2 linked regions of the Homo sapiens genome follow. The protein of the gene in region 1 binds, or shares a complex with, the protein of each later gene. Each region holds a gene or a part of one and is shown on either strand. Other genes may lie near its edges.

Region 1 (7,126 bases):
CTTGGGCCCTTTTTCTTTCTGCATTCAATTTTGTCAGAAGGTGGTGGCTTCCCAAAGGAAGGGTTGAAGGACAGACAAAATTACTATGTCTACTTCTCAATTCCCAGGCTATTTCAAAGAGAAATTTGTTCATACATTTCTAGTCATACTTAGTAATACCTGGTTAGAAGTTTAATGGGAGGAAAAACATTATATTTGTCTTTAAGATCAAGTGGAACACTGAAGTTTGATGGGAGGAAAAACATTATATTTGTCTTTAAGATCAAGTGGAACACTGCCTTTGATGGCAGACCTCCTAATCAAAGGGCTTTATCCTAAGAACCTATAGAGATACCCTTAATCAATTTTTCTCACTTCTTGCCTTATATAGAGAAGCAACACTGGGTTGGGTAAACTAAGTGATTTTAAAAAAAGAACGCATAAACATTCTTTATGATTAGCAAAAGATATTACAGAAATAATTCTCATGCTAGTTTCTGGAGAAAGCAAAGCTAAAGAAAGCCATCTAAAAAAGCTGATGTATCGGTCAGGAAAAAATATGGCAGACTCTTAACTGTGAATTGAAGAAAGTGAAGGAACTGTTTATAAAGGTTTGAGCAGGGTTATAGGACTCTAGAGGAAACTATAGAATCATGTTCACTGGATGCATGAAAAATGTAGTGCCATCCAACTGTCTTGTCACAGTAGTGCACCAACTTTGGAGTCAGACCGATAAGGGATCCAATATCAGCTTTACCATTTTCTATGGGTGTGATCTTTGGCAATTAAAAAAAAAAACTGTCTGCATTTCAGTTTTCTCATCTGTAAAATTAAAGATGATAATATCTCTAAAGGTTTTTGAAAGAAGTAAATGAGAAAATGTAGCTCAAATTGTAACAACATCTGACACAGTGCAAAAACCATAACTATTAAATCTAGTTATCCTCCCTTATTTTATTCCTATTAGAGATATTATAAAGTTGGCCACAGAAACTTATTATTGAGGATCACGTTTGAGGATTATTGAGAATCACGTTTGGCTGTAAGTAAATAAAAAAAAAAACAAATAAAAAAGCTAGAAGTTTATTTCTCTTTCGTACAAAACCAGGTCTAGACAGGCCAAGTTTGACATGGCTGTTGTGTTCTAAAAAGCCCACATACACCTTCCATTTTTATGTTTTGTCATCCTTACTGAGTGGCTGTTGTCTTCCTGGTTCAAGATAGTGGTCATTGCATCCTTGTTGGGTGTGGCAGAATGAAGGAAGTGAGGAAGAACTGGCAAATGGAGAGCAGCAGCAGTCCCTTTAGGAAGGTTCTTGACAGCTTATATCTTACTGGTCAGAACATAAGCTGCAAGGGAGGCTGGATGATGGATGTACTTTTCCTTTTTTTTTTTTTTTTTTTTTTTTGAGACAGAGTCTCACTCTGTCACCCAGGCTGGAGTGCAGTGGTGCAATCACGGGGCTCACTGCAACCTCCTCCTCCCGGGTTCAAGTGATTGTCCTGCTTCAGCCTCCCAAGTAGCTGGGATTACAGGCACGCATCACCATGCCCGGCTAATTTCTGTATTTTTAGTAGAGATGGGTTTCACCATGTTGACCAGGCTGGTCTCAAACTCCTGACCTCAAGTGAGCCATCCACCTTGGCTTCCCAAAGTGCTGGGATTACAGGAGTGAGCCAGCGTGCCTGGCCTCAATTTCTCTCTTTCTTTCTTTCATCTCTCCTTCCTTCCTTTCCTTCCTCTCTCCCTCCCTTCCTTCTTTCTTTCCTTTCTCCCCTCCCTTCCCCTCCTCCCTCTCCTCCTCCTTCCCTCCCTCCCTCCTTTGCTTGCTTGCTTCCTTCCTTCCTTCCTTCCTCTCTCTCTCTTTCTTTCTTTCTTTTTAAGACAGGGTCTTGCTCTGTCACTCAGACTGGAGTACAGGGGTGTGATCACAGCTCACTGCAGCCTCTGCCTTCCGGGCTCAAGTGATCCTCCCACCTCAACCTCCAGAGTAGTTGGGACCACAGGCACGCCACCACCCCCAGCTAATTTTTAAATTTTTGTAGATATGGGGGTCTCCCTATGTTGCCAAGGCTTGTCTTGAACTTCAGGACTCAAACAATCCTCTTGCCTTGGCCTCCCAAAGTGTGGGGGTTACAGGTGTGATGGAGCTTGAGCCTAGCAGTTGAAGACCAGCCTGGACAACATAGGGAGACCCTGTCTCTACAAAAAAGTTAAAAAGTTTAAGAAAAATTCCCGTACACTTGTTCTTTTTAATGCAAAATGTAGAGAAAGACAAAAATTGTAATTCATCTACATCTAATCTCTTTTACGCAAATATATACATTTCATTACAGTCTAGGGCCAGTATGTCTATGAATTAGTGACAATAAATATTGAATAATGAGACTACTATCTACAGCGTTCTCCTATTGGGTACTTCCTGAGTTATAAGCAGCTACTAGTATTCAAGTTTATATGGCAACATGATAGTTTTTCTTGGGGAGTAAGAGTTGTGTTCAAATTTATAATACAGTGCCATTTTCTTGTTCTCCCTATACAGCAGTTTTTAAAAACTAGAAAATGAGACAATCTTTTATTGGTAGCACTCTGTAATTCTGCGTCTAGACTTAGTTATTTGTAGTCTCCCTAAAGGAGCACATATTTCCCCAATGTTCAACATTTTTAAATTTTCTTATCTGGCTACCCCAAACCCCTCCTCGCAGCCTCCCCTTCTCAGGTCTGCCCTTACTATTCCAGGCCCCACAACCTTGCCTCCTCTAAATTAAAATGTTAACTATCAGGCTGAGAAGTAACCAGATAAATTAAATTCCTTGACCAGTTAATGACTAGTAATAGCTCGACAGATGATCTCTCTGAAGTGTTTGTATTCTTAAGACTCTCTAGGTACAAAGCATTCATTCAAGGTACTGCAGCTTTGTATATAGAATTTCAGGCACACTGGCAGGTATGATTATGACTTCTTTTGGTGGGAACAGGACTCTTTTAAATGCCCCTTAGATTAAATCCATTCAGTCCACTCCTTCTTTCTTGTTGGAATATTAAAATGAAGATTTCTTTACGAATAGTAGATATAGTAGCTTTAAAAAATATTTTAAAGCTATTCATTACAATTTCCTTTTCTTAAAGAGTTTTGATAAATCCAGTGATGGCTTATTACTCTTAGAATGTCTTATTGAATGTGGCGGGACATTTTGTTACTGACTTAAAATTAATGAATATAATATAAAAAATTAACATATCGAGAAAAGGCAAAGCCAAAAATATTAGAGGCCTGAGTCCTCTTGGCTGAAGTTTCTCACCTCAATTACGTAAGTCCTCAGTTAGTTCACTTTTGGAATCATGTCTAATACATTTGACAAGGGAGTAGCCTTGGAGTGTCGCTAAGAAGAAATTGATCAGGAAAAATGAGATGGCAAAGAAGAATGTTTCCAAGAAGAAGTGGGATTTAGGGTGGAGGCTGTAAAAAAATGGGAGCGGTTCCTTTAGGCATTGAACAAACATTTATTTTTTGCCTTCCACATGCCAGGACCTACTGCGTCTCCTCCGGATGGGTGCTCCTCGCCGACAAAGTCTAGATTGTGATTATCTCAAGGACTTGAGTTACCCTCACTTCCGACCTCCTCTCTCACAAACTGGTTCCAGGCGGGGAGACTGAGGATGGGCTGGGGAGGCTGGCAGAGGCGATCCCCACCTCGCGGAGCACAACATCTGCTGTGTTCTGCGGCGAGCGCCTGTCAAGCAGTGGGAGGAAAAAGCGCTTGGAGCCACCAGCCCACTCTTAAGCGAAACTCGCCTGGAAAACACCCCGCCTCCCAGCAGAGTTTCTGCCGGTTTCTTTAGAAGGGTGGTGCGGAAAAGCAACTTTTGGGAACTTGAAGGAGTGGGGTGTGGGGCGAAGTGGAAAGAGCACACAACGCGACCCCACTCAGTCCCCGCTTGGGACTCCCATCCCGGCATCAGGCGTAGTGGGCGGTCCGGGCCAGGGCCAGGGCCAGAGCGGCGGCGGCGAGGCCATGCCGAGGGCCCGTCGGCCGCAGTTCCCCGTCCGGCCTCGCGGGGGCGCCGGCGCTGCCGATCAGGTGACCGAGGGCCCGTCCGGGGCTGCGGGAAGCGGCCTCGTTCTCAGCCGCCGGAGACGCCGCCGCCGCCGCCGCCGCCGCCACACCTAGTGGAGCAGCCGGGGAAGGCGGCTCGTTGGGGGCTGGGGCGGAGAGCGCCGGGGGTGGGGGCGGAAGGGCGGCGGGCGGAAGGCAGGAGGCTGCCGGGGCGCGGGCTGCTGCGGGAGAAGGGGCTCCGAGGAGTCCGCCGCGGCTCGCTCTGTCGCCGGCGCGGGATTGGGGCGCGAGGGCCATGGGCGCGCTCTCCTAAGGCGGAGGTCGCGGGCGGGAGGGGAGGAGGCCCGAGAGAGGCTGCTGCGAAGGCCGCGGGCCCGTGACTGGGCGCGAGGCGGCCGGCGGCGGCGGCGGCACCAGCACCACCATGTCGCGCTCAGTGCTGCAGCCCAGTCAGCAGAAGCTGGCGGAGAAGCTCACCATCCTCAACGACCGGGGCGTCGGCATGCTCACCCGCCTCTACAACATCAAGAAGGTGCGCACGGGCCGGGGAGGCCGCGGCGGAGGCGGGCGGGCCCGGGAGGGATGAAGGGCAAGGGAGGCCGTGGGGTGGGGGCGGCAGGAGGCGCCGGGTGTAGAAATCTCGGCGTCGCCGCCCGAGGCCCGGCCCGGGGTCGCCTGGATGCGCCGCGGCCTAATGCGGAGTCCCGGGCGCCTCTCCCTGTGGTTCGCCGGCCGGCCGAAGGCAGAGAAGCCATTTCCCGGCTCCCGGCGGCGGGATCGGGCGCTGGGCCTCGCACGGGGTGGGGGCGCCGCTGGGAGCCGGGAGCTGTCCCCTCCTCGGCGCCCCCGCCCCCATGATGGGGCCCATAGGAAAGGGAGGGTGGTGGGTGGGCGAAATTCTAGGTGGGTAGGAAAACTTGAGTGTTCCATATTCTTACGGAGATGGCAGCAGTGAACAGGGATTACACCCCACATCCCCATTTTTTGGTGTGGGAATGTGGGTAGAGAAGGGCTGATTGGATGAATCCCGTATCCCCTCCACTTTGCCACTTTATTTTAGATTGCTAAATAAAAAGCCATTGAGAGTGTGTTGACGATTTGGGATTATTTCATTTTGAAGGTGGAGAGGAGGGGGAAGTGAGGGTGGAACCAATTTTCTGAAATACTTCTAGGCTGTGAGTCACTAGAACTGGAATAACAACCTTCTACTCTTTCCCCTGTACTCCTCCTCATGTTAGATTTTCCAATACCATTTCTTAAAGTTCGGTGTCTGTACAAAATAAAAACCGTAAAAATGTTGCAATTGCTGCTGATTTATAGCATAGTCTGATAATTTGAGCAACTATAGCTAATAGGCCCATTTAAAGGCTTTTACATGTCCTCAGTACAGTAAGGAGTGGAAGACCACTGGAAGTTTAGAAAAGTCCATGTAAAGATAGAACAAATAATTACATTCATTATCGTAGGACAAAACAACAAAATCTCTCCCCTTAAGGCAAGGTTGGTAAGTTTTAAACAATTTGATAAAGAGAAAAAGAGATATTTGGAAAATTTAGATCCATCGAGTTTCCAATGTGTCTTTGATGTCATACCTTCATAACTATTTGTTGGCTTTTTAATATATCGTGAATGTTACCGTTTAGTTTAATCATAGCAATAGATTGTAGGTTGAGAGGGCTTCTGAAGAAAGGTTTTTTTTTTTTTCTTTGGAAATTCATTTCCAAGCGTTTGAGTGTAAAATTGATTTATTTTTTACAATTTGATGTAGACACTAATTCTAAAGAGTGTCCTGGTTTAATGATGATAAATTTTGGATAAGGACAAAGTCTGGTTGCTCACCTAATTGCAAGGCTTTATTACTCTAAACCCAGTGCTATCTGGAGAGTAACTGCAACATGCTTACTCAGTTTGTTACCTTTTATGTGGCAGGAGCTCAGTGTCATGACAAAGAAGCCCCTCTGCATTTACCAAGGAGCCTAGGTTATAAATTTATATAGGTTAGGAATAATTCAGTTTTAAATAGTATTACTTAGAGGTTGCATTGACCTGAACTGTTCGGGGAGATTGTGCTGCTTAAAAAACTTGGAAATTGATTCCTATATGAATTTTGTCCAAAAATGAACAAGTCAAATATTATAAAAGTTACTAGACCTGTGGTATTGTGGTTTAAAGGAAATGGTTATGATGGTTTCTAAAAGAGGAAGTGAGAGTAACATCAAAAGTGATTTGGGTATTTGGGCAAAATACCTTTTCTAAGCATTTATTAAACATTTTTGTAGGATAAATGCAATCAAACTTTAATATCCCACCTTCATAAATAAGATTAAATGAAATTCTGGGCATTTGAACTCTAATAATTCCAGTTCATTGCCTTTTCTCAAAAGCACTGTTTTTTTCACTTCCTGTTTTGGGAAGCTTCAGCCTCTTGTATTATTGAACTTGTGAAAGTTAAAATGCATTGAATGTGATCATTATTATATCCATGTCAAATATTTTGATTTATTGAAACGTCATATTTTAGCACTTGCCTTATATTTTTAGTTTCTTAAGAAATACATTGCTTACCTTGCTTGAGTGTGAATTTTCTCTGGGCAGGGACAGTGTAATTTTTGAAATACTAGAGTATTTAGGGCCTTATCTGATACTCGAGGCCTTCAGTTAGGCCAGGTTGAAATGAATGAATTACTTCCCTCCTCTCTCTCAAAACCTGTGTGCTCTAGTTTTAATAATAATACCCTTGGGTTTGCTCCCTTTGTGTAATTTTGCATGTAAATGAATCAGATAAGATTTTGGATCTTTCAGCCTATAGAATTGTCTGTGAGTCTGGCATATCTTCCCAGCTGGCTAGGAATTGAAACATTTGTTCAAATATCTTGCCAAAGAAGTGAGTAAGATCTGTTCACCATGTGTTTATTAGGTTCATGCTGTCTGCATTCTTACTGCATTATAAACCACATACTCTTTTCAATCTCAACCTCTTCTAGTCTTAAAAAAAAAACCTTCCACCTCATAATACATGTTTGCCAATCAATTATCACATTTTCATTAATGCATGTGCATTAGATTGTCTACCAGATCTAATTACTCT
Region 2 (7,772 bases), on another chromosome or scaffold:
CTCTTGAACTTTCACTCACTTATACTTTTCATCATACATCAAATACAACAAAAATATGTAGTTTTTCCCTTTTTATTATTCGAAGCAAGGAATTGTTTCCCTGCTTGCATTTTCTTTGTCCAGTTTCATTGAGATATACTTTATTTATTTATTCTGAGACAGGATCTTGCTTTGTCACCCAGACTTGAGCGAAGGGTCACCATCATAGCTCACTGCAACCTCAGCCTCCTGGGCTTCTCCTGCTTTAGCCTTCCGAATAGCTAGGGATGCCACCATGCCCAGCTCAGAGGTATAATTTAGTTGCAATAAAAGGCACAGATTTTTTTTTTTTTTTTTAGATGGAGTCTCACTCTGTAGTCCAGGCTGGAGTCCAGTGGCATGATCTTGGCTCACTGCAACCTCCGCCTCCCAGGTTCAAGTGATTCTCTTGCCTCAGCCACCTGAGTAGCTGGGATTACAGGTGTGCGCCACCACACCCGGCTAATTTTTGTATTTTTAATAGAGACGGGGTTTCACCACATTGGCCAGGCTGGTCTTGAACTCATGACTTCATGTGACCCACATGCCTGGGCCTCCCAAAGTGCTGGGATTACCGGCATGAGCCACCACGCCCGGCAAAAGGCATAGATTTTAAGTGTGCAATTCAATGTGATTTGACAAATGTATGTAGTTATGTAGCCCCCAGTACAGTGATGATATTGAACATTTCCTTTACCTCTAAAAGTTCACTTGCATCCCTTTGGTGTCACCCCACCACTACTCCAGCCTTTGGCAAAGTCTGATCTGATTTCTATCACTGTAATTTTGCCTTTTCTAAAATTTCTTAGAAGAGGAATCATACAGTAGGTTATTTTTTTATTTTATTTTTTAGTTTTATTTTTTTCTGAGACAGAGTTTTGCTCTCGTTTCCCAGGCTGGAGTGCAACGGCTCAATCTTGGCTCACCACAACCTCCACCTTGTGTGTTCAAGCAATTCTCCTGCCTCAGCCTCCCAAGTAGCTGGGACTACAGGTGCGTGCCACCACACCCAGCTAATTTTGTGTTTTTAGTAGAGACAGGGTTTCTCCATGTTGGTCAGGCTGGTCATGAACTCCCAACCTCAGGTGATCTGCCCGCCTCAGCCTCCCGAAGTGCTGGGATTACAGGTGTGAGCCACCGTGCCGTTTTTTTTTGTTTGTTTGCTTTCTTTTTTTGAGATAAGAATCTCCCTCTGTCCCCCAGGCTGGACTGCAGTGGCATGATCTCAGCTCACTGCAACCTCTGCCTCTTGGGTTCAAGCAATTCTCCTGCCTCAGCTGCCTAAGTACCACGCCCGGCTAATTTTTGTATTTTATTTTTAGTAGAGATAGGGTTTCCCCGTGTTGGCCAGGCTGGTGTCGAACTTCTGGCCTCAAGTGGTCGGCCCACATTGACCTCCCAAAGTGCTGGGATTACAGATATGAGCCACTGTGCCCAGTCCGTGCCTAGCTACTTGAAAAAAACATACATGTTGTAGAGAGAGCCTGTTGCTCAGACTAGTCTCAAACTCGTAGGCTCAAGTGATCCTCCTGGTTCAGCCTCCCAAAATGCTGGGATTACAGGTGTGAGCCACTGTGCCCAGCCTTTTGGCTTGTTTTAAAAAACTGGTTTGTCATCTTATTACTGAACTGTAAGAGTTGTTTATATATTAGGGTACAACTCCTTTATCAAGATATTTGTTTTGCAGATATTTTCTCCCAGGTTTTGGTTTTCCTCGTCTTCCTTCTTTCTTTTTCTCCTCCTCCTCCTCCCCCCGCTCCCTCTCTCCCTCCTCCTTTTTCTTTTCTCCTCCTCCTCCTTCTTCTCCCTTCTCCTCCTTCTCCTTTTTCTTCCTCCTCCTCCTCCTCCCCCTCCTCTTCCACCCCTTTCTCCTCTCCTTCCTCCTACTCCTGTTCCTCCTGCTCCTGTTCCTCCTCACCTTTAAGGCATGAGGGATAAGTTCTTTTAGTGAACTTTACATGAGCCACAAATATTTGTACAAGTTTGCACTGTCCACTGGATTTTGGAAAGATCACTGTATTAGTCCATTCTAGCACTGCTATAAAGAACTATCTGAGACTGGGTAATTCATAAAGAAAAGAGGTTTAATTGGTTCCTGGCTCTGAAGGCTGTACCAGAAGCATAGCTGCTTCTGCTTCTGGGAGGCTTCAGGAAGCTTCCAAAATGGCAGGAAGGCAAAGGGGAAGAGAAATGTCTCATGTGGCAGGAGGGGAGCAGGAGGCAGGCGGGGAGGTGTCATATACATTTATTTCATTTTTTAGACATGGTTTCCTTCTGTCACCCAGGCTAGAGTGCAGTGCTGTGATCTTGGCTCACTGCAATCTGTGCCTTCCAGGCTCAAGCAATCCTCCTACTTCAGCCTCCCAAGTAGCTGAGTCTACAGGTGCTCACTACCACACCTGGCTAATTTTTCGTGTTTTTTGTAGAGACGGGTTTTTGCCATGTTGCTCGGGGTGGTCTGGAACTCAAGCGGGAGTAGTTCGTCATGTTGGTCTCCCATTTTGGGAGTCAAGTGGATTCTCCCACCTTGGTCTCCCAAAGTGCTGGGATTACAGGCACAAGCCACTGCACTGGGCTGTCATACACTTTTAAATGACCAGATCTCAGGAGAACTCACTCGAGATCATAAGGAGAGTTCCAACAGGATGCTGCATAACCATTCGTGAGAAATCTGCTCCATGATCCACTCCCGCTTCCCCCAGGTCCCAACTCCAACATTAGGGATTACAATTCAACATGAGATTTGGCAGGGATGCAGATCCAAACCATATCAATCAGTAACCTAGGAAACTTGACGGCATTTTCAGTGCCCTTAGCTAAACTCCTTAACCTATCTAAGCTTAAATTTCCTTATTTGATAAGGAAGGAAAATAATATTTATATTATCTGTCTCTCAGAGTTGTGAGAAGAAATCTGACAGTACTTTTTATTTGTATTTATCATCATCATCATTATTATTCATTCATTGCTCAACTGCATGGACAGTACGTTGAAAATAGTAAATTAGTATCACCTCCCTAATCACTTCCCCAATGTTGTTGAAATGTGTCAATATTTGAATATATACAAACTGAGTGATTTCTACAGTTAAACCTCAAGTAGAGACCAAGATCAATAATACATTAAATTTTAATAACTTGGATTAAGTCGTGTTTGGGTTAACGATAAATATCAAAAGATAACTATTACACCTATTCCAGATAATAAATGTATTACTTTCCATAATATCTGGAATAGGTATAATAGTTATCTTTTGATAGATTCCTTGATGGAGAATCTGGTGGCAAGGGGAAGTTAACGTTTTTAGTAGGAAACTGAGTTTTTCCTTTCAGAGGTCGAAGAGGGAAACTGGTTCCCTGGGGCCCTGAATAAGGCCCCAGTAAAGGCAATATTCAATAAATACCTGGTGCTGGCAATTTTTAATTTGGTTGAGTGATGTTTTTACTCCTAGTTATTTTGATTCTAAATGACTTTATGGAGATACATGAACATATGTCCAAAGTCTTTGGACAACACTTTTCATAGCTGATTATATCCGAAGCATTTAATGTTCCTGTTGAAGTGAAGAGCTTGAAATATAGGGCCTTTTGAGACTATTCCAAAGCAGGTGATAAAAACAAAACAAAACAAAAATCCAGGAGCAAAAAACGAAGGATCAGGGTGGGTGGCTCATGATTGTAATCCTAGCAGTTTGGGAGGTTGAGGCAGAAGGATTGCTTGAGGCCAGGGGTTCGAGACGAGCGAGGGCAACATAATTTGATCCCTGTCGCTATAAAAAATTAAAAAGCTCAGCCAGGTGTAGTGACCGACGCTTGTAGTCCCAGTTACTCTGGAGGCTGAGGCAGGAGGATCGCTTGACTTTAGGAGGTCTAGGCTGCAGAGACCCATGATTGTGCCCCTGTACTCCAGGCTGGGTAACAGTGAGATCCTGTCTCAAACAAGCAAACAACTCCCACCCCTAAAAAAACGTGCACATGACCTTAAAAGTGTAGGAAGATTACATGATAAGGAGAGTCAGAGAAAAGAGAAATTAGGACAGGAAAGCACTACAAGCTATGTATGTTTATTTTATAATTGAGTCTTTAAGGGTACGGAGTATTCGTACTCAACTTGTACCCCCAGTGTCTAGTACGCTGCTTGGTAAACAGCTGGCAATCAAGAAATGTTTGCTAAATTTTAAATGAATTGATGGGGGCGGAACTTCAGAAAGTAAAGCCTGACTCGCTTTATTTCTAAGAAGGCAGAGGAAGTAAAAATCTAGTTTTCCGTACTCTGTCCCCTTTTTAATCCTTCTCTGAATGGGTGTCCTTGATTCACTGACATTTCCTAATTAACCAAGTTCTGCCAAGTTTCACATGAAACTTGGGGAACCGATTTCATTCCCCCAGTATCACCCTGTGGCGCCACCTTCCGGAGCTGTGAGGAAACTCCGGACTTCCCCCCAACACCGCCCCCTCCCTCCACCCTCGGTCTCCGCTTTCTGCGCTCTGCCGCGTTGGTTTTCGGAGGTGTCTGGGCGCATGCGCTTTGGACGGGCCGCCTAGCCTAGGAGAGACTACAATTCCCAGAAGACAGTGCGAAAGAAAAAAAAAATCCCGCGGTCCGTGGGGGTGGGAGAAATAAACGCTCGCGAGAGAACGAGGTTCAGGCGGCTGCACGAAGGGGGTGGAGGGGGGCTGGAGAGAGTGAGGAGGAAGGGGAGGAGGTGCCGTCCCACAATACCAGGCGGGAGGGCGGGTAGGCGGTTTGTATCCGGGCTGTGAGGTGCTCGGAGCCTCGGCGGACCTTGCTGCCTCTGTCTCTTTAACGCGAGAGGAAGCGATGCAGAGGGGTGGAAAATGGCAGAGCTGCAGATGTTACTAGAGGAGGAGATCCCGTCTGGCAAGAGGGCGCTGATCGAGAGTTACCAGAACCTGACTCGGGTGGCAGACTACTGTGAAAACAACTACATACAGGTGAGGCGCTCTGGCGGCCGGCGGGCGCTGGCCGGGTCGAGGACCCGCCGGAGTGACCAGCCCACTGGGCGGGGTGGGGAACTGCCCTGACCTCAGCGGCTGCCACCAACCCGAGCCCCTACCGCAGCCCCAACCCCAGCCCCAACCGGGGACAGAGCGAGTGGCCGGGCTGAGGGAGTCGGGCTGCGATACAGGAAGTGGCTGTGGTGGTGGAAACCGATAGAAGGGGAGAGAGAAAATGGGCGAGGGAGCCGGGAGCCCGCCGCTGCCGCAGCCCGGCGCCCCCCTCGCGTCCGCTTCCCCCAGGGCCCGGCCACCGGGGTCGCGCGCCCCCCAGGTAGCCTCCAGTCCGCAGGGCTGGAGTCCCGGAATACCCCCGAGCTGCCGCCGCGCCGCCTCTCTGCGCCGGGAGAGGAGGTCCAGGACGGGAGAGGGGAGAGGAGAGGGCAGGGACGAGGCTGAAGCCGCAGAAGGGAGAGGACCAGCGGGGTGTGTGTTGTGTGTCGGCGGAGGGTGGGGTGGGGGCGATTATGTCAGTTTCAGCCCCCAGAGGGTGTGTCTTTTATTTATTTATTTATTTAAAAAAAATTTGTCATGAGTCACATTACACCGACCTCCCGGAGGAGAGGAGGAAGCGGGTGTGGGGAGTGAGGGAGGGCGTTTGAGAGAAGTTCATCTTAAAATTCCTTTAATTGAAGGTTTGTAAATCTGTCTGCTTGTCCATTTTCAAGTCGGGTTTTTTTTATTTTTTTCCCCCTCTCATCGTTTTCACTTCCGCCCCACCATAATGTATTCTAAGAGGTTGTTAGGGCTGCTATCATTAATTATCAAACACGAATTGTTCTTAACTCCTTGGAAAAACGGCTTACCCTCCCTTCTCCCAAAAGTTCTTGAGCTGTAGGCTTCATAAGTAACTTAAAATAGACTGGTGTCATCGCCGGTTGCTTATTTTCTGAGGTTTCTCTCTTAACAAGCTAAGTAAATGTATAGTATGTGAATCCAAATACAGAAACGAACAGAGGTAGCCTCTGAACTACAACGTAAAAATATCTGTTATTGTAAATTAGAAAACTCTTGGGACTTTGTGACAGATGCTTGTTTGTTCGTTTCTCTTTGGATGATTGGAAGTGAATTGTGTGTGGTAGTTTGTTTTGAAGATCTTTAACTGTGTAAACCAACAGTTTGCGCTAGAAACAAAGTAGCACAGTCCTTTGTATAAATATAAAGGCACCAGGAATGCTCTTGCTTTTGGTAAGGCAAGGCCAAAACGTGCTTTGAAAGGTTAGGGTTATTGCAATTCAGAACTAAATTGTTTATAGAAATGTCTCCCATGTGATTATAATTTTTAAGAACCGATGTTTCTGTGTTGGCAAATGCTTCCCCTCTTTATTTTTAGAGGGAGATGCTGTTTTCAGAATGTTTTGAATATTTCTCAGTTTTCATGTTAGTAACATTGTATCTTCAGTAGCACTACTCGGAATTTATCTTCACAATTTTTTTTTCAAGCTTTCACTTTAGGAATTCTCCTGATAAGTGAACTTGTTGAATGCCTGCCACATCTACTGTATCACTTTGTGCAAACTTTATATTTAGCCCTTCGAAAAACTTTTAAAAATCTAGTAGGGATGTGGATATGGTTTGCAAATATAAAAGTGATCTCGTAGTTTATCGATATTAAAAATAGGCAACTTTTATTCAACTTAACATGAAAAGCCTTGAAATTGAGGAGAACCTTAATTTGCTGAAAGTTTTAAAGATTTTTGAAAGCCAAAAGGAGAGCACAGTAAGTTTAATTTCTCGCTTTCCAGAAAAGTTATGTGTTCTCTGTAGAAGTCAGTAGATAAGTGCTTCATACAGGGGTGGCTCCTTTTTGTTTTGCATGTTGGGAAATCTGACAAGTATATAGTGTGGTAACTATGTGTTGGCAACTGTTAGTAACTGTAAACGTGTTTTAACCTGTCTGTGTACTATTACTTTTTCAGGTAGTTGTATGTTGTAATGCTTTTTTTTTACCCCTCTCTGACCCCTTTCCTTTACTCCTCTTGCTACAATCATGTAACTTTGAAGCACTTTAAAACTTCATTGCTAATATCTCTAATTAAGTCATGTTATTTTTCATACAGTCTCTCACTTTATAAAATGTTAGTGCCATGGTGCACGAATAGCCACAGTCAGTGGCCCCGTTTTTTTTTTTTTTTTTTTTTTTTTTCTTTTTTTGTGGGGGCGGGGTGGGGTATAATCCTAAATCTGACACCAGTGAGGTGTTTTGTTCATATTGGAAAAAAAAAAAAAGAATTCACGCAAAGCAATGATTATCTAAATACCTTAGTAGCCTTTATACGTTGGGCTGCATGATCCAGGCCACTAGTTGCCTCCCTAAGGGACTCAGACAGGGTCAGGCTCAGAAAGTGATGTGGAAGTTGATGTGGTAGGTGGTGCTGCTGACTTTGGTGCTAAGAATGGGGAATGAATAATATTAGAAATATCCATTAGGGTGTCTGTTGAGGTCTTTCTGTATCCTTCCTGTGACCTGATTGGGTTATTTATAACTAATACTCTTCCTAAATATATATCTCTTCTCAGTGAAAGTATGCAGTTCACGTGTGCTTTGAGAATTTTTAAATAAGGTGAGCTAAGTTATTGCTTGGGTGATTTTTGTTCTGAGATTCACTTTTCATTTCGTTTTTCTACAGTTTGAAAGTGCAGTCCAGTTTAGCTAAGGTGTGTAGCTGAGAAACTCTTTTGGCTGTGGTGCATTTAAGTTCTTGCGGCAGTTTATTAGTTCTTTGGTTCTGTTGA

What was found. The genes of interacting proteins can lie anywhere in the genome.
Region 2: NCKAP1 (region 1) and ABI1 share a complex: the UniProt entries of both Homo sapiens proteins name them as parts of the WAVE2 complex.

The regions. Positions count from the first base shown.
Region 1 is NC_000002.12:183,035,436-183,042,561, reverse strand, and holds the start of NCKAP1 (nck-associated protein 1), read left to right. Parts: upstream 1-4,104; 5' UTR 4,105-4,462; coding exon 4,463-4,570; intron 4,571-7,126. UniProt on the Homo sapiens protein: Part of the WAVE complex that regulates lamellipodia formation. The WAVE complex regulates actin filament reorganization via its interaction with the Arp2/3 complex. Actin remodeling activity is regulated by RAC1.
Region 2 is NC_000010.11:26,857,948-26,865,719, reverse strand, and holds the start of ABI1 (abl interactor 1), read left to right. Parts: upstream 1-4,761; 5' UTR 4,762-4,856; coding exon 4,857-4,973; intron 4,974-7,772. UniProt on the Homo sapiens protein: May act in negative regulation of cell growth and transformation by interacting with nonreceptor tyrosine kinases ABL1 and/or ABL2. May play a role in regulation of EGF-induced Erk pathway activation. Involved in cytoskeletal reorganization and EGFR signaling.